Linked DNA regions of Homo sapiens. The protein of the gene in region 1 purifies or fractionates together with the protein of each later gene. This does not show direct contact. Each region holds a gene or a part of one and is shown in the gene's direction. Other genes may lie near its edges. The genes, in order: DCAF12L2 and LONP1.

Region 1 (9,181 bases):
ATTTTAGTGACATGGGCAGATCTGTATTTTGCGAGCATTACTCTGGGTACAGCCTGGATAATTGAATGGAGGAGGAAAAGCGTAGTTTTAGGAAAATCACTTATGAAGGTGGCTTGGGAAAGGATGGTAGCTGTGGAAATACTGAGAATTAAATGAATTTGAGAAATGGTAGAAGATGGAATATTGAACCTGAAGACAAAAAATGTGTGTCAAGGATAGTTGCTAGGACTTCAGTTTGTACAGCTGGATGGATGGCGATACTATTCATTAAAACAGGGAACTATATAAGCTCAAGTATATGGGGACTGAAATCAATAACTTGAGCTCATACAGTCTGAATTTGAAGTTCTGTTTTGGTAGCCAAGATGTCAAGCAGGAAGTTGAACAAACAGGTTTGGGATAGAGATACAAAATTGAGATGGCTTGGCATATATTATGCATTTAAAGCTAGGAGTAAGATGGTATTGAAAGTTGGGAAAATAGCAACTAGGCATATATATCTGGTTAAAACATTTCAGAGCATGGAATAGAATGATTTCTCAATCAATTTTATGGACATAATCTCCCTCCAGGTCTTCTTTTATGTACCTAGCTAATATCGGAGCATTATCTATGGCCTATTTTCAGTCTATCCAATTTCACAACTATCAACTGATAAGAAATGCTCTAAATCTAAGAAAAGATCAGTTCTTTGTTCTTTGTCGATATTTATATTGACAATTATTTGCAAAAGGAACCCAAGTCTGGCTGCTTCAAAAAATAAACCTTACAACTTCCACTTGGTGATCTACTAGCATGCGGTAAAGTTATTCTTACAATACATTCTTCCCATACTAATATTCATCTTTAGGTTGGCAACAAAATAGACATTGATGAGCTGTATGTGAACAGACAAGTAGCTCTTACTACAAATAATTTATCCCCATGTGTGCCAGTTTTCATAATGGTGTTTATATGTGTTTCACAATACAGCGGACACTCACAAAACCCTATTAGCATTGCTACCAAGTTGTCTTTGTAAAGTTAAGTAGTGGAAAGGAGGGAAGGTAGTTTTAAGAAATGTATTAAGTGCTTTATAATCTGCCAGGCACTATTCTTATTGTTATATATGTATTAACTCATTTAGCCATCAAAACAAAACCCCATGGAATAAGTGCTATTATTATCCCCATTTAAAAAATCTGGGGATAATTGCAAAGGGAATATTATAACTGGCCCAGTTTCAAGGCCAGCAAGCCCTAGAACCAGAATTCAAAATATGTTATCTGGCTCCAGAGCCGATTCACATAACCACTAGCCTGTAGTGTCTCCCACAAAACATATAACTAGCATTGAATCTACCCTCTCACAAAACAAAGCCCAAGCTTGGACTCTGACACACTCCTTCCTCTTAGAAAATATGGAGAGGAGTAGGGCATAGAAGAGGTCATGTGGTCAAAATTGCCTCCTTTCCTCTAATTCTGTTTATAGTAAATGTAATAATGTGATAAATCTTTCCTATCTTACCCCATCTGACAGCATATGCCTTTAGTTGTGCCATCATAGGGCGAAACAACTTGCTGAGTCATCTATATCACTTTCTGCGTCATGAAGTTTGGAAGAATAATCTGACCACAAACCAGGTTCATAGCTGCTTATCTTAAGAGACTTGAGAAGGTCACAACTTGAAAATGTTATGACTGTGTTATAATTAGAGATTAAGGGAAAATTTATTCAATTTAATAATTCAAGAATATTTTGTCTTGTGTCTGGTATAAGTAACCATATCATTATCAGATGTTATTTTAAAACAAGCTTAATTAACTATATTTCTTTTTTCAGTGTCTTATATTTATACTTGCTGATAAAGAAAATGCAAATGCTATACATACAAATGTAAGAAAGATGTCACAATATACTTTTAAGGGCATCTTTGTTTCATATCTATATACAACATATTGGAAATTACTATATGATCACATTTCTGAACACAAATGCCTCTATATCTGAAAATATGCTGCAATTTGTAAGGCCTTATTTGTAACATCTATTTTTCTGTTGATTATATGAAAGCCACTTTTAGAATTTATTCAAACAGACTTGTTACTGATCCACCCGTCTTACTATTGCCCCACCTTTTTCTCAACTTTCAGTATCTTTTTCCTGAGATTATTTTAGTTTTGGACATAAAATCTAACACTTTAAAAATAATTTAAAACACATTTAGAAACAAGTTTATATTCATGATACCACAGGGAAGTAACAAATATTCTGCCTTAATTTTTAATTGTTAATCTATTTTGGTTATTGGCTAGACATCTCATTTTTTCATTCATAGATTAGAAAAGTGGACAGACACAGTTGATGAAATCATCCAATGGTTCAAGGAAACATATGTAAATATAAATATAAATGTAAATAAATAAGCATAGCTAATAATACAACAACTTGTTTGAAATTATGTATATATAGATATGTAGGTCAAAATAGGTCTGCATAGATATCTATGTAAATTCAAACAAGTTATGTGGCATTATTACAATTCAAGTCCCTCACTTTCTCCATTTCAAGTAATTTAATTTCAAAATATCTTCTACTTGTTGGATATTTCAATTTCTTTTCTCTCTTTTAGTTCTCTTTACTTATCAACAAGTAAATCCCAAGTTTTCATAAACCATTGACTACTTACCTAGGACGGTGTGATGGTACAAAATAAGTAGGAAACATGTAACCTTTTGAGGAGCTTACAATCTGATTGGGATAACAAAATTTAAACACATTAAGTAATTAGAGAACAGCATGAGACAGTGCCCTGAAGCCATTCATATAAGACCCTATTCAATGGCGGGGAATCTAGGGTAGGGAGACAGGCTAGTCTAATACAAAGCAAAAACCTATAATAAACACAGAAATATCTCGGTAAGGACTGACAAAATATTCACACTCACATAGACAGCAGCCCTCAGAGGTAACAGAAGTACCTTATTGGGATCCCAACACTCAGAAAACTATGCAGATACCTGACATTTTTATCACATGCCATTGCAGCTACTGTTTCAACAATAAATGCACTATTTATGATGTTATATATTAGCAGATATTGTATTTTCCTGAACATGGAAGTAACCAGATGCAAAGGAAGTTCAAAATTGCAAGTTCATATACAAAACTGTACATCTCTCAATATATCTTGCCTTTGGTCTGGAAGTTGTTTGTACAGCTTTAAAGAGCTTAGAGAAATTTGAAAGCCTAGCGTAAAAGAAATGTGTTTCAGGTATAATATTCCAGAGGAAGTTAACCTAACTCATTTATCAATACATGATAGTAATCTGACCACTCCCTACAAACATATTATTATATTTAAATATTACATATTTACATTAACAAAAAGTGGAGATTTATGTGGATGTTTTCACCAAACATAAAAAAACTTGTGAATACATATTACTGCACCTCATAAGTATTAATTAAAAGAAATGTGTAAAAAATAGGTCCCAGAGATGATATATTTGCCTTTAAATATCATATGGACAATGTTGTACATCATTTGCATTCAGTATTTATTTATTTATCACTTCCGGTTATCTTTAAGAAGCACAGAAGACATTGCGTATAAAATTTCAACAATAGAGGTAGTTTACATGGTTTTTAAGAGAAGGAAACAAAAAAAGTTTGTTGAATAATATAAAGTAGTCTTAAGTTATGAAAGTATTAGAGTCACACAGAGATTCACATCTTGACTTTATCACTTACTAGCTGTGTGACAATGGGGGAGTCACTACCTTTACTGAGCCTCAATTTCCCTCATTTTAAAACAGGGCAATAAAAATAGAACCTACCTTATAAAGTTATTGTGATGCCAAATGTACATAAAGTATTTAGCATTTGAAGCATTTAACACATCCCTCCAGCCCATGATATGAATAAGTTTTCAATAGATAATAGCTGTTATAAGCATTATTTACTTTTACAAATGTGGTATTTATGCACAATGTAATACTACTCAACCATAAAAGAAAGAAATCATGTCATTTGCAGCAACATGGATGAAACTGTAAATCATTATCTGAAGTGAAATAAGCTAGGCACAAAAAGACAAATATTCCATATTTTCACTTATATATGGGAGCTAAAAAATGTGATCATATGCAGGTAGAAAGTGGAAAGATAGATAATGGAAACTGGGAAGGGTAGTGGGGAGAGGGGAGGATGAAGAGAAAGGGTTAAAGGGTACAGGCATACAATAAGACTGAAGGAATAAACTCAATGTTGGATAGCAGGAAAGGGTGACTATACTTAACAGAAATGTATTGTACACTGGTGATGGACACCCTAAATACTCTGACCTGATCGCTAGGCATATATACATGTAACAAAATTCCTCATGTACTCCATATATTTGCACAAATTAAAAAAAGTTTATGTGGAGAAAAACCCATATATACATACACATATATATGTAATATATATAAACCATATATATACACACATACATATTTCAGCCAATTTGTTATACATATGTTATATATGACCAACTAGTCTGATAATAGCCTAAGATTTTGAGCCTATTTTATTTACCGCAACAGTAAAAAATATGCCATGAAGTCTTATATAATATCAAGTTTTCTAAGTCAAGATTTTTTAGAAAAGAAAAGAAAGCCTTAAGATAGGTTAGGTTAAAGAAATTTGTGATCAGTTTTTCTCTAGTAATGTCACTTCCAATTATGAAATCGTCAGCATTTTTTTCATTGTCAGATTACTCCCAATCCGTCACCCTCACCCTCCTCTTGATACAGCACTAAACATGGGTAGGAATATTGAGGCAGAGAAGGGGAGGATGGGCACTAAGGTGCAACAGTTGGACTGGAGTGATGTGAAGGATCCATGGTGCACTTGGAGTTTCTGGGTTTGAGATAAGTTTGTAAAAAGAGCAGGGAGAATTGGGGGGAAACAGCAACAAAGTATTTTCATGATCTCTGATCAAGGACAGTTAACTCACCACCTGACTTCTGCAAACACGCTTAACAAAGACTTTTTTTGTGGAGGACGATTGGGGCCTGTGCAGACCTGGTATCAGCCACCAGCATTTCAGTGCAAGGTATTACTGTGGAATTGGGGGCTTGCTTTAGGATTGACTGCCCTAAAGCTTTAGAGCAGGTGTGGATCATGTAACTTCTCAGACTGCCAAACTCATGCTTTGAATATCCACACTCTCACCATTTTGCCATTTAGTCACTTTGCAAAGTTCTTTATCATCTGTGCCTGTGGAAATCCTGTGCATTCCTCTGAGTACTGTACCAATGCCCAAGGGGGCCCCCACACCAAGAGAGGGCTCTGCCAAGATTCCTATGACTGAAAGTTTGGGCTGACCTTTCCGTCCCAGGAGAGAGAGGGAGGTACCCCTCTCCTGGACCTCTTCCCCTTCACTCCACCCGCCCTGGGCTGAGTTCGAAAGAACTCAATGCCTTACAGAAAAACCCTTCTCTTCACCCCTCACCCCCATGTCTCCACCCCTATCATCACTGCAGCCCTGGATGCTCCTGAGGCTGCTTTCTGACTAAAGGGTCCCTGATACCACCCGGGTGGAAAGCAGGGCCTAGGGAACTGCATTTGGAACGCAGTTCAAATGCTCAGGGATTCAGGTGCTCAAAGACTTCAGTTTGAGAAGGGGAAAAAAATTATTTGGTGGAAACTGTTTAAGACATCAACCCAGGAGCTGAAACTGGAGAAGCTGCAGGTCTGACACGAGGGTAGAGGTCTCCCTGACGCTGCTGAACCCCACACCCCCCCACCCCCGCACCCGATCCCTTGCCAAATTCAATGTATAATCTAAGCGAAGGGTGTCCCAAGATTACACCAAGCGCACACTGGTTTCTCCAGGCAGACCGTGGCTCGGCCTCCTTCTAGCCCCGTGCTTGATTATATCTTAGGTTTCAGATTTTACTGAAGTACGGATTTTAAGAAGGGTAGTTAGCTGTTGTCCTGAGGGTAGCGAAACAACGCATGTCTGATACTGGGGACCTAGGGTGCTGGCCCTCCGCGACTCTGCCCCTGCAGCTCCGCTACCCCCTTCTCCCCTCCGCCCCCTTCCAGCCTCCACCCCGCGCGGCCTCCGCTACCCGGCAGGCACCCCACGCCAGCCCAGCAGCTCCTCCCACTGCCTCCGCCCTTCACACTCGGGCCCCAGCGTCGTCCTCCCCCCACACTGACTTCGCTCCCGCAGCCATCCAGACAGACACTCTTCCCGCTCTCGCCTAGGTCTGCACCGCCACTGCCGCCCTTGCCGCCGCGCTTCGCCCCGGCTCTGCTACGTCAGGCCGCGCATCTCTGGCCAGGACGACCGCTGCCGCCGCCGCCGCCGCCGAGCCTCAGACTGAAGTCTGGGCGCCCGCGATCGCACCAGCTTCTTGGTCTTAGAGATCCTGAGCTCTCGGCTGACGCGGAAGCGCAGCCATCCCCACCACCGCCGCCACGGCCAACACGGGTGCCACGCGCCGCCACCGCCGCCGGGCCGCCGCCGCCGCCGCCGCCGCCGCCGCCGCTGCTGCAGATCGCCCGCCGCCCACCATGGCCCAGCAGCAAACAGGTAGCAGGAAACGGAAAGCGCCCGCGGTCGAGGCGGGAGCCGGGAGCTCGTCGTCGCAGGGTTTAGCGGCGGCGGACGGAGAGGGGCCTCTGCTACCCAAGAAGCAGAAGCGGCCGGCGACGCGTCGCAGGCTGGTGCACTATCTGAAGGGCCGGGAGGTAGGAGCGCGGGGCCCAGCCGGGCTCCAGGGCTTCGAGGGCGAGCTGCGGGGCTACGCCGTCCAGAGGCTGCCCGAGCTGCTGACGGAGCGCCAGCTGGACCTGGGCACCCTCAACAAGGTGTTCGCGTCACAGTGGCTGAACGCCAGGCAGGTGGTGTGCGGCACCAAGTGTAATACGCTGTTTGTGGTGGACGTGCAGTCAGGCCACATCACGCGCATCCCCCTCATGCGGGACAAGGAGGCCGGGCTGGCCCAGGCCCACCAGGGCTGCGGCATCCATGCCATCGAGCTGAATCCCTCCAAGACGCTTCTGGCCACCGGCGGCGAAAACCCCAACAGCCTGGCCATCTACCAGCTGCCCACCCTGGACCCCCTGTGCCTGGGCGACCGCCATGGCCACAAGGACTGGATCTTCGCAGTCGCCTGGCTGAGTGACACCGTAGCTGTGAGCGGCTCCCGCGACGGCACCGTGGCTCTGTGGCGGATGGACCCAGACATGTTTAATGGCAGCATTGCCTGGCACAGCGAGGTGGGTCTCCCAGTATATGCCCACATCCGTCCGAGGGATGTGGAGGCCATCCCCAGGGCCAGCACCAACCCCAGCAACCGCAAGGTACGGGCCCTGGCCTTCAGCGGCAAGAACCAGGAGCTGGGAGCGGTGTCCTTGGACGGCTACTTCCACCTGTGGAAAGCCCGGAGCACACTATCCAGGCTCCTGTCCATCAGGCTGCCCTACTGCCGAGAGAATGTGTGCCTGACCTACTGTGATGAGTTGTCCCTGTACGCTGTGGGCTCTCAGTCCCACGTCTCCTTCCTGGATCCGCGCCAGCGCCAGCAGAACATCCGGCCCCTGTGCTCTCGAGAGGGTGGCACAGGCGTGCGGTCGCTGAGCTTCTACCAGCACATCATCACTGTGGGCACCGGCCATGGTTCCCTGCTCTTCTATGACATCCGCGCCCAGAAGTTCCTGGAGGAGAGGGCCTCTTCCAGCCTGGACTCCATGCCGGGGCCCGCAGGGAGGAAGCTCAAGCTTGCCTGCGGCAGAGGCTGGCTCAACCAAGATGACGTCTGGGTGAACTACTTTGGTGGCATGGGAGAGTTCCCCAATGCGCTCTACACCCACTGCTACAACTGGCCGGAGATGAAGCTCTTTGTGGCTGGGGGGCCTCTCCCTTCAGGCCTCCATGGGAACTACGCAGGCCTCTGGAGTTAAGGATGGACGCCTTGTTCTCAAAGTGCACAGGTTTACCTTTCAGTTCCGCCTGACTTTCCTTCTTCATGCTGCATTTGTGCTTTTAACTTTGTGTGGCTTTTGTCTTCCAGGTGGAACCAGTCCAACTTACGTGTGCTTAATGTATTAGGCAGAGAAAGAAAGAGAGAGAGCGGGAGCGAGAGAGCACAAGTGGTCCTTTCGGCAGTCAAAACTTTGGCTTTAAAACTCTCATTCACGTTTCCCAACAGCAGTATATTTTTGCCTTCTCATTCAAAGAGTTTTGGCTAAACCTTAATTGTGTTCTGTCTTTCAGTGATTCACATACCCTCCTTCTTTAGGTTGATGTAGTCATAGTCTTCACTACTATTCAGTACGTTAGTTTTATCAATATTGCAATAGTGTTCAGATCTTTTACACATGTTAGATGTGTGGTGTTTTGGGGAAATGTGAGCTACAAAGCATCTTTGGGGTTGTTTTGAGGAACTACCCATCATTTATAGCCTTACTCTAATTACAAAATGCAGTTCAGGTTCTAGATTGCCACCATTCTAGAGTGTGGCACACACCATTCTAGGGCGTGATTCATTTGGATGTTGGAAACTCAATGTCTGTTGTTTGTATAGTGTTGATGTGTAAAATGCTTTAAAAATATGTTCTGTTAGTTAGAAATCTTACAATGTTGTTCATACTATTAATCAACATTTTTGGTTATTCAGTAAAACTTTACTATCCTCAGGCCCTCCGTGTTCTTATTTAAAGCCGCTGTATTATGGCCTGCTTTTCTATGCTACAGATTTTCAGAACTACTCAATTCTGGTCTATATATGTGGTAGTGCAATCAGGGAGGTATTTTTGGGGGTATATGGGGTACACATCTCTTTAAATTCAGGTAGCTATTTACAGTGAAAAGCCAGTTGTGGCAGTTGTGCTCAGAGTAGGTGTTGATTTTTTATTACTGTATACATGGATAATTCTGGATCCAGTATGTGATGTGTTGCAGAAAAATAAATAAAATGTGTTCATCATCTTAGCAATTAAGTGGCAGACTTAAGTTCTTAATACTTAAATATATGCTTTCTTTTTTCATTTGTCTTTCTGAGAACGTATTTATCAAAGTCAAAACTTTCCAGGACAGAAGCTGAATCTGAAGCATTAGCTATGCAGACATTACTTTGTACATCTCTTTTTGAAAATGAAACTTATAAGTTAAAAGATTAAACAACATCTTGAATACGTTATGAAA
Region 2 (8,529 bases), on another chromosome or scaffold:
AGGGGGTCTGTAAGGCGGGTTCTGTCCTCAGGTCCTGGGAAGTCACGGGGGACAAGCCCTCAGTACCTGCGTGTCACCAAGATGCCTGCAGCAGGCTGCCAGCTACCTCTCCCACCCAGAATGCTCTCCGCAAAGTGTCACTGCCTGTGTCACTTCCACAGTGACTTCATGTGTCTCTAAACTCCAGCATCCGTGTGGCCCAGCTGGCCTGTCCCGGTGCGTCTCGTATGCCCGTTGGGTGGCAGTGCGCCCTGACGGTGTCTGCTCGTGGGGCCGCCTGGCCCTTCCTCGGAAGCCGTCCTCCTCTTCATCCTCTTCCCCAATCCTGCCGTGTGCTCTTGCAGCCCTCACTGACTTGCTCCTGGCCCATAGTGGCCGCTGCTCACTGCTGCACGGCTCCCAACTTGGGGACCAATATGGAGTTGCCCTCCCAACCTTCAGCGTCACTCTCCCGGCAGGGGACCTGGCCTCCATTTCCCCACCTGCCCTGGGTCAGGCCTTGTCCCATTTTCTAAGCCTCGTCCCCTCTGTGGTTCTGCTCACTCAGCCCTGGGCAGAAGCCAGTGCCGTCTTGGCTCTCCTGATGAGTCAGCAGTGGACCTCCGGCCATCTCCTCCTTCCTGCACTGGGTGCTTTGGACAGGGCAGTTTGTAAATTTTTTTTTTTTTTTTTTTTTGAGATGGAGTCTCACTCTGTTGCCCAGGCTGGAGTGCAGTGGCACGATCTCGGCTCACTGCAAGCTCCGCCTCTCGGGTTCATGCCATTCTCCTGCCTCAGCCTCCCGAGTAGCTGGAACTACAGGTGTCCGCTGCCACGCCCAGCTAATTTTTTTTTTTTTTTTTATTGATCATTCTTGGGTGTTTCTCGCAGAGGGGGATTTGGCAGGGTCATAGGACAATAGTGGAGGGAGGGTCAGCAGATAAACAAGTGAACAAGGGTCTCTGGTTTTCCTAGGCAGAGGACCCTGCGGCCTTCCGCAGTGTTTGTGTCCCTGGGTACTTGAGATTAGGGAGTGGTGATGACTCTTAACCAGCATGCTGCCTTCAAGCATCTGTTTAACAAAGCACATCTTGCACCGCCCTTAATCCATTTAACCCTGAGTGGACACAGCACATGTTTCAGAGAGCACAGGGTTGGGGGTAAGGTCACCGATCAACAGGATCCCAAGGCAGAAGAATTTTTCTTAGTACAGAACAAAATGAAAAGTCTCTCATGTCTACTTCTTTCTACACAGACACGGCAACCATCCGATTTCTCAATCCTTTCCCCCTTTTCTATTCCACAAAACTGCCATTGTCATCATGGCCCGTTCTCAATGAGCTGTTGGGTACACCTCCCAGATGGGGCGGCTGGCCGGGCGGGGGGCTGACCCCCACTCCTCCCTCCCAGAGGGGGCGGCTGGCCAGGCAGAGGGGCTCCTCACTTCCCAGTAGGGGCGGCCGGGCAGAGGCGCCCCTCACCTCCCGGACGGGGCGGCTGGCCGGGCGGGGGGCTGACCCCCCCACCTCCCTCCCGGACGGGGCGGCTGGCTGGGCGGGGGGCTGACGCCTCCACCTCCCTCCCGGATGGGGCAGCTGGCCTGGTGGGGGGCTGACCCCCCCCCCAACCTCCCTCCCAGACGGGGCGGCTAGCCGGGCGGGGGGCTGACCCCCACTCCTCCCTCCCGGAGGGGGCGGCTGGCCGGGCAGAGGGGCTCCTCACTTCCCAGTAGGGGCGGCCGGGCAGAGGCGCCCCTCACCTCCCGGACGGGGCGGCTGGCCGGGTGGGGGGCTGACCCCCCCACCTCCCTCCCGGACGGGGTGGCTGCTGGGCGGAGACGCTCCTCACTTCTCAGACGGGTCGGTTGCCAGGCAGAGGGTCTCCTCACTTCTCAGGGCTGCCGGGCAGAGACGCTCTTCCCCTCCCAGACGGGGTCGCGGCCGGGCAGAGGCGCTCCTCATATCCCAGACAGGGCGGCGGGGCAGAGGCGCTCCCCACATCTCAGATGATGGGCGGCCGGGCAGAGACGCTCCTCACCTTCCAGACTGGGCAGCCAGGCAGAGGGGCTCCTCACATCCCAGACGATGGGCGGCCAGGCAGAGACGCTCCTCACTTCCCAGACAGGGTGGCGGCCGGGCAGAGGCTGCAATCTCGGCACTTTGGGAGGCTAAGGCAGGCGGCTGGGAGGTGGAGGTTGTAGCGAGCCGAGATCACGCCACTGCACTCCAGCCTGGGCACCATTGAGCACTGAGTGAACGAGACTCCGTCTGCAATCCCGGCACCTCGGGAGGCCGAGGCCGGCGGACCACTCGCGGTTAGGACCTGGAGACCAGCCCGGCCAACACAGTGAAACCCCGTCTCCACCAAAAAAATAGGAAAACCAGTCAGGCGTGGCGGCGCGCGCCTGCAATCGCAGGCACTCGGCAGGCTCAGGCAGGAGAACCAGGCAGGGAGGTTGCAGTGAGCCAAGATGGCAGCACACAGTCCAGCCTCGGCTCGGCATCAGAGGGAGACCATGGAAAGAGGGAAAGGGGAGACCGTGGAAAGGGGAGAGGCAGAGGGCAGAGGCAGAGGCAGAAGCATTTTTTGTATTTTTAGTAGAGACAGGGTTTCACCGTGCTAGCCAGGATGGTCTCGATCTCCTGACCTTGTGATCCGCCTGCCTCGGCCTCCCAAAATTCTGGGATTACAGGCGTGAGCCACTGTGCCTGGCCTGTAAATTGTTTTATAGAGATGGGGTCTTGCTGAGTTGCTCAGGCTGGTCTTGAACTCCTGGGCTCAAGTGATCCTCCCACCTGGGCCTCCCAAAGAGCTGGGATTACAGGCGTGAGCCACCGCGCTCAGCCCCACACATGGGTTTCAAGCCCCTTGCAACCACCCAGCCAAGTCCAGCAGAGAGACAGGCAGCTCGTGAGCTCCACTCAGCATCTCTCCATCTGTCCCCTGGCAGTGTCACCCGCAACTACCTAGACTGGCTCACGTCCATCCCTTGGGGCAAGTACAGCAACGAGAACCTGGACCTGGCGCGGGCACAGGCAGTGCTGGAGGAAGACCACTACGGCATGGAGGACGTCAAGAAACGCATCCTGGTGAGCCCAGTGTCTGGCCTGTTGTGGATTTGCATGTGGGTGCCCGGGCCCAGGACTCTTGTGTGCTGTGGGTTGAGATTTCAAAGGAGCCCCCTGGTGAATTCGTAGGCCTGGGGGTGCTGGTCGGGGGGATCCCGGCGGAGGTAGCATCCTGCCCTGCCCCCGAGGGCTCGAGGATTTCCCAGGTGGACTGAAGTCATGCCTGACGGGCCGGGCATGGTGGGGCTGCTTGTAGTCCCAGTTACTCAGGAGGCTGAGGCGGGAGGATCACTTGAGCCCAGGAAGTTGAGGCTGTGGTGAGCTGTGATCATGCCACTGCACATCAGGTTGGGTGACAGAGTGAGACCCCCATCTCTACAAAAAATTTTAAAATTGCGGCTGGGCGCTGTGGCTCATGCCTGTAATCCCAGCACTTTGGGAGGCTGAGGCATGCAGATCACCTGAGGTCGGGAGTTGAAGACCAGCCTGACCAACATGGAGAAACCCCATCTATACTAAAAATACAAAATTAGTTAGGCGTGGTGGCGCATGCCTGTAATCCCAGCTACTTGGGAGGCTGAGGCAGGAGAATCGCTTGAACCCAGGAGCCAGAGGTTGCAGTGAGCCCAGATCGTGCCATTGCACTCCAGCCTGGGCAACAAGAGTGAAACTCCGTCTCAAAAAGGAAAAAAAATTTTTTTTAATTAGCCTGGTGTGATGTTGCGTGTCTGCAGTCCCAGCTACTTGGGAGGCTGAGGTGGGAGGACTGCTTGAGCCCGGGAGGTGGAGGCTGCAGTGAGCTGTGATGCACCACTACACTCCAGCCTGGGTGACAGAGCGAGACCTTGTCTGAAAATTAATTAATTTTAAATTAATTTTTAAAATATCACTCCTGAGACATTGGAAACCAGGCAGGCAGGTGGGAGTCAAAGGTTAAAAAACAGGAGTCAGAGCCTGGGCATGGTGGCTCACACCTGTAATCCCAGCACTTGGGGAGGCCGAGGCGGGTGGATCACAAGGTCAGGAGTTCGAGACCAGCCTGACCAACATGGTGAAACCTCGCCTCTACTAAAAATACAAAAAAAGTAGCCAGGCATGGTGACTCACACCTGTAATCCCAGCTACTCAGGAGGCTGAGGCAGGAGAATTGCTTGAACCCAGGAGGCTGAGGTTGCAGTGAGATGAGATCGCACCAGTACACTCTAGCCTGGGCCACAGAGCAAGACTCCATCTCAAAAAAAAAAAAAAAAAAAACAGGAGCCAGAGGCATTGGTGGACTGCTTCTCTGGGTTGGACCGGAGAGAGTGGAGCATTTGCGGTCTTCAGGGTCCCGGGAACTGCTGAACGGGCCTGGCACTGCCGGGTGGCCGCGGTCTCCTAGCACCTAGTTGTCCTTTGGTGTTAAATTGTTAAATGGAGCCCTTGTCACAGGCTGCCCCTCCCCGTGGCCAGTGGCAGCTCTGATGTGCTCAGCCTCCCGGACAATCCTGGTCCCTTCTCGCAGCCCTCAGACGTCTGAAAGGCAGTGTGCAGGTGGCGAGAGTCATGCGCGGGTCCCCGGCTTCCCCAGCTCACGTGCCCACTGAACCTGCCTCTGTCTGCAGGAGTTCATTGCCGTTAGCCAGCTCCGCGGCTCCACCCAGGGCAAGATCCTCTGCTTCTATGGCCCCCCTGGCGTGGGTAAGACCAGCATTGCTCGCTCCATCGCCCGCGCCCTGAACCGAGAGTACTTCCGCTTCAGCGTCGGGGGCATGACTGACGTGGCTGAGATCAAGGGCCACAGGTAGGCCTGGCCTGACAGCTCTCCCCACGCACTCCCCTCAGCTGTGCTGCCGGGCTTCGTCTTCTCCGGTCACCCTTTAACATCTGGTAGAGCAATCCGGGTTGTGGGCAACCGATTCCACTCATGCTGGAGTAACTGAAAAGTCCAGCCATGTGGCGGACTTCAGGCCCAGCTGATTCCAGGTGCTCAAACAGCGCTGGCAGGAACCTCCATGGCTTGACCCCTGGGAGAGAGACTTCTCGGGCCGGCCCTCAGCAGACACCCCCGGTAGTTCCAGCATAGGACCTGCAATGCCCGGGCCAGAGCTGCAGGGCCGGCGTTTGCCGTGCAGATGCTGGTCTATGTGGGCTGTGGCTGATGCCCCAGGACTAGGGGTGGGGTCGGCTCCACCCCCCACCCCGAAGCCTGTGGGCTGGAGTCAGGAGAGACGGTCTCCAGTGAGGACCGGGCCGCGCACACCAGAGAAACCTTGGCGCCTCTGTGGGCTCACTCGTCCCGGCCAGCCTCAGGCCCAGAAGCAGGGGCCACGGCCCTCAGAGTTCAGCGCCCTCCCACCTGACCCTTTGGGTGGGCAGCCGGGCGCGGCTTTTCTGGGGCTTCCCTCCTCGCCAGCCTCTGTAGACAGCGGTTCTTTGGAAACCGTAGCCTCAGTGAGAGCCGAGTGTGAGGCATCTGCTGAGTCCACCACGTGTTTCCATCCTGCAAGGCATTCACTTGAGTCCAGGTTTAAAGTGAACATTTCTGCCTTCTCTAAAAACATCCCCAGCTCCCGACCTCCCGGCTCAGGCCTTCCTAGCATCTGCCCGCCCGCTGCAAGGGTGACAGCATGCTGGCCCGCGCAGTGTCCAGTCCCCAGGGGGCGGCCACTCTGACCAGCCGGGAGTTGGGAGGAGCTGGAGGAGGTGGGGCCAGTGCAGCTTTGGGGAGTCCCAGATTGACTAGGGGGTGGGGGGTGTGAGGGGGAGGACAGGGGACCTGTTCTGCAGGCCCTTGGTTGGGCTGGGGTCTGAGCAGGAAGGAGCAGCTGGGTGAAGGTGGAGGGGTGGGGGTGGGGGGCACCCAGTCCTTCCTGGGCAAGCGGTTTGAAGTGGTCGCGAAGCCTCTTGGAGCCTGGTTCAGGGATGGCTGGAGGTGCGGGCCGGAGGAGAGACCCTGGCGGGGTTCTGAACAAGCCTGGGTCACCTCTGGCCTTGGGAGGGAGTCACCAGGTAGCGGGGCTGCGGGGAGGGCAGGCGTCTGCTGACGTCTCTGGGTTCCTGAGACAAGGACAAGGACAGGAGACTGGCTGCGGGGCGATGGATCGTTGTTATTAACAGCAGCAAAACCCTCCTTTGCCCCCAGCTCTCCAGGGCTCCCACGTTCCTCGGTCAAAGCCCAAGTTCTCACTGCAGCCCACAGGACCCCGCATGACCTGCCCCACCCCCTCCTCTCTCTCCCTCTCTTCTTCCTCCCCCTCCCTCTACCCCCTTCCCTCTCCATCTCCTCCCTCTTCCCCCTCTCCTCCCTCTTCTCTCCCCCCCTCCTCCCTCTGCCTCAGCCTCATGGCCTCCTCACTGTTCTTCTAACACACCAGGCGTGGTCCTGTTTCAGGGCCTTTGCACGGGCTGTGTCCTGGGCCTGGAACACATCTCTCAGACCCTCACGTGGCTCTCTCCTCACGTGCGTTGCTCGGGGCCTCTCCCTAAGACACTCCTTACCCCCCTGCACACTTAAAGTGTCACACACATCCCAGTGGCATCTCAGTCCCTCCATCCCTGCCTCCCTGTGTCTTCATCCCACAGACAGAGCCTTCCTCACTGTCTCTCGTGGGGCCTGGGATTCTTCTGTCCCTGTCGCGGGCCGGGCCCCTGTGCTGGGGCAGAGCACAGAGCTTGCAGGAAGCCCTCCTGAGAGCCAGTGCTGGCCATGGCTAGTATCACCCCAGCCCTTGAGGGCTGAGGCGTGCCTGGCGTCCCTCAGTGAGGAGTGGGGGCCTTCTGCTGCCAGCGCCTGTCTGGCTTTCACCATGGTGTCAGCTGAGGGATGGGACTGAGGGAGATCTGGCTTTGAATCAGTGACCCCAGAATCTGAGCTGGCGAGTCAGGGCAAGTGACCAGCGTGCCTGCAGGTGCCACACATCCGGCGGCTGCCAGCATTTCCGCCTCCCACATCATGGCCACATCTTGTGGGGCTCCAGGTGGCCTCTCCCCTGTGGCCCTGGAGGGTGCATGGTGTCGTTGTGGCCGAGCCAGGCTACCAAGTGACCTCTGACCCCGCTGTGCACCCACAGGCGGACCTACGTGGGCGCCATGCCCGGGAAGATCATCCAGTGTTTGAAGAAGACCAAGACGGAGAACCCCCTGATCCTCATCGACGAGGTGCGTGCGGAGAGGCCCGGAGACCCCCTAACCCGGCAATGCCGTGTGCAAGATGAAGCCGAGCCTTCCGGGTCCTAGGATCCCCGAGCCAACTCAGGGGCCATCGCCGTGATGCTGGCCCTGATGGCACGGACGGGTCCCTCCCACCCACAGCCACGCCCAGCAGGCTGCCCGTCCAAGGCAGGGTGTGGGTGCCGCTCTCACTCGGGGTCTCCCCAGCCCTGACCCTGGGGTCTCCCCACTGGGCGGGCTGGCCAGGGGCACGGCGAGGGGCACCACCTGCTGTCTGCTGCCCCAGGTGGACAAGATCGGCCGAGGCTACCAGGGGGACCCGTCGTCGGCACTGCTGGAGCTGCTGGACCCAGAGCAGAATGCCAACTTCCTGGACCACTACCTGGACGTGCCCGTGGACTTGTCCAAGGTGGGGGGCCTGTCTGGGGCCTGGGCTTGCTGGGGAGGGTAAGCGGCCAGTCCCCCAGCACCTTGCCGCCGCCCCCAGGTGCTGTTCATCTGCACGGCCAACGTCACGGACACCATCCCCGAGCCGCTGCGAGACCGTATGGAGATGATCAACGTGTCGGGCTACGTGGCCCAGGAGAAGCTGGCCATTGCGGAGGTAAGCCCAGCCCCTCCCCACTGCTGTCCCCTTCCCAGAGCAGGGGGCGCCCCCCAGAGCCTGCAGAGGCCGTGCCTCTGGGAGCTCCTGGGCCCGGGAGAGACAGGTGGGACCTGCGGCCGAGGAGCAGATGGGGCCGTGAGAGACACACCAGACGCTTGCGAGCAGCTGCAGGTGGCGCGAGTGGGCGCAGGGTTTAGGGCCTGGGACTGTCCAAAACACCGCCCACCACCGTCAGGCCACACACTCTGTCTCCCGGGGCCTCCAGGCTGCCCCATGGTGGGGCCCCCACCTGGCCCAGAGTGTAGGGAAGGTTTCTGGCAGCCGGAAGCAGTGGGGCCTGTGGCTCCCACCCAGAATGAGGCTTGGAGGAGAAGTGGTTTCAGTGAGGAGCATGCAGGGGCCCATATTTCTCATGTGTTTTTTTTTCTGCAAAGGTGCTGAGTGCATTTCTCCCCTAGGAGCCCTTTGACAGCCAGTGGTGGGCACTGGTCCCTGCCCTTGAGGCCCTCCCAGCATCCTCGTGTCCCCTGGGGGCTTCAATGCCCACTGCTGGGCCCAGTTCCCAGCCTGACTTCTCCAAGGGACGGGCCTGTAGTTCCTGGGGACAGGACTGGGGGGCATGGGGACCCCTCAGGGCATCAGGAGTGCCCCCCAGTATCAGTGGCAGATGTAGAGTGGCTTGCATGGCTCTGTCCGTCTCACAGATGCCCTCCCCCATGCCAT

The links.
Region 2: the proteins of DCAF12L2 (region 1) and LONP1 purify together in Homo sapiens (co-immunoprecipitation; 3 studies listed by BioGRID and IntAct, with this or other methods). This does not show direct contact.

What each region holds. Positions count from the first base shown.
Region 1 is NC_000023.11:126,163,290-126,172,470, reverse strand, and holds DCAF12L2 (DDB1- and CUL4-associated factor 12-like protein 2), read left to right. Parts: upstream 1-6,181; 5' UTR 6,182-6,546; coding exon 6,547-7,938; 3' UTR 7,939-8,972; downstream 8,973-9,181.
Region 2 is NC_000019.10:5,695,328-5,703,856, reverse strand, and holds part of LONP1 (lon protease homolog, mitochondrial isoform 1 precursor), read left to right. Parts: exon of another isoform or gene 1-126; intron 127-2,929; coding exon 2,930-3,068; intron 3,069-4,651; coding exon 4,652-4,830; intron 4,831-7,099; coding exon 7,100-7,187; intron 7,188-7,485; coding exon 7,486-7,608; intron 7,609-7,686; coding exon 7,687-7,803; intron 7,804-8,529. UniProt on the Homo sapiens protein: ATP-dependent serine protease that mediates the selective degradation of misfolded, unassembled or oxidatively damaged polypeptides as well as certain short-lived regulatory proteins in the mitochondrial matrix.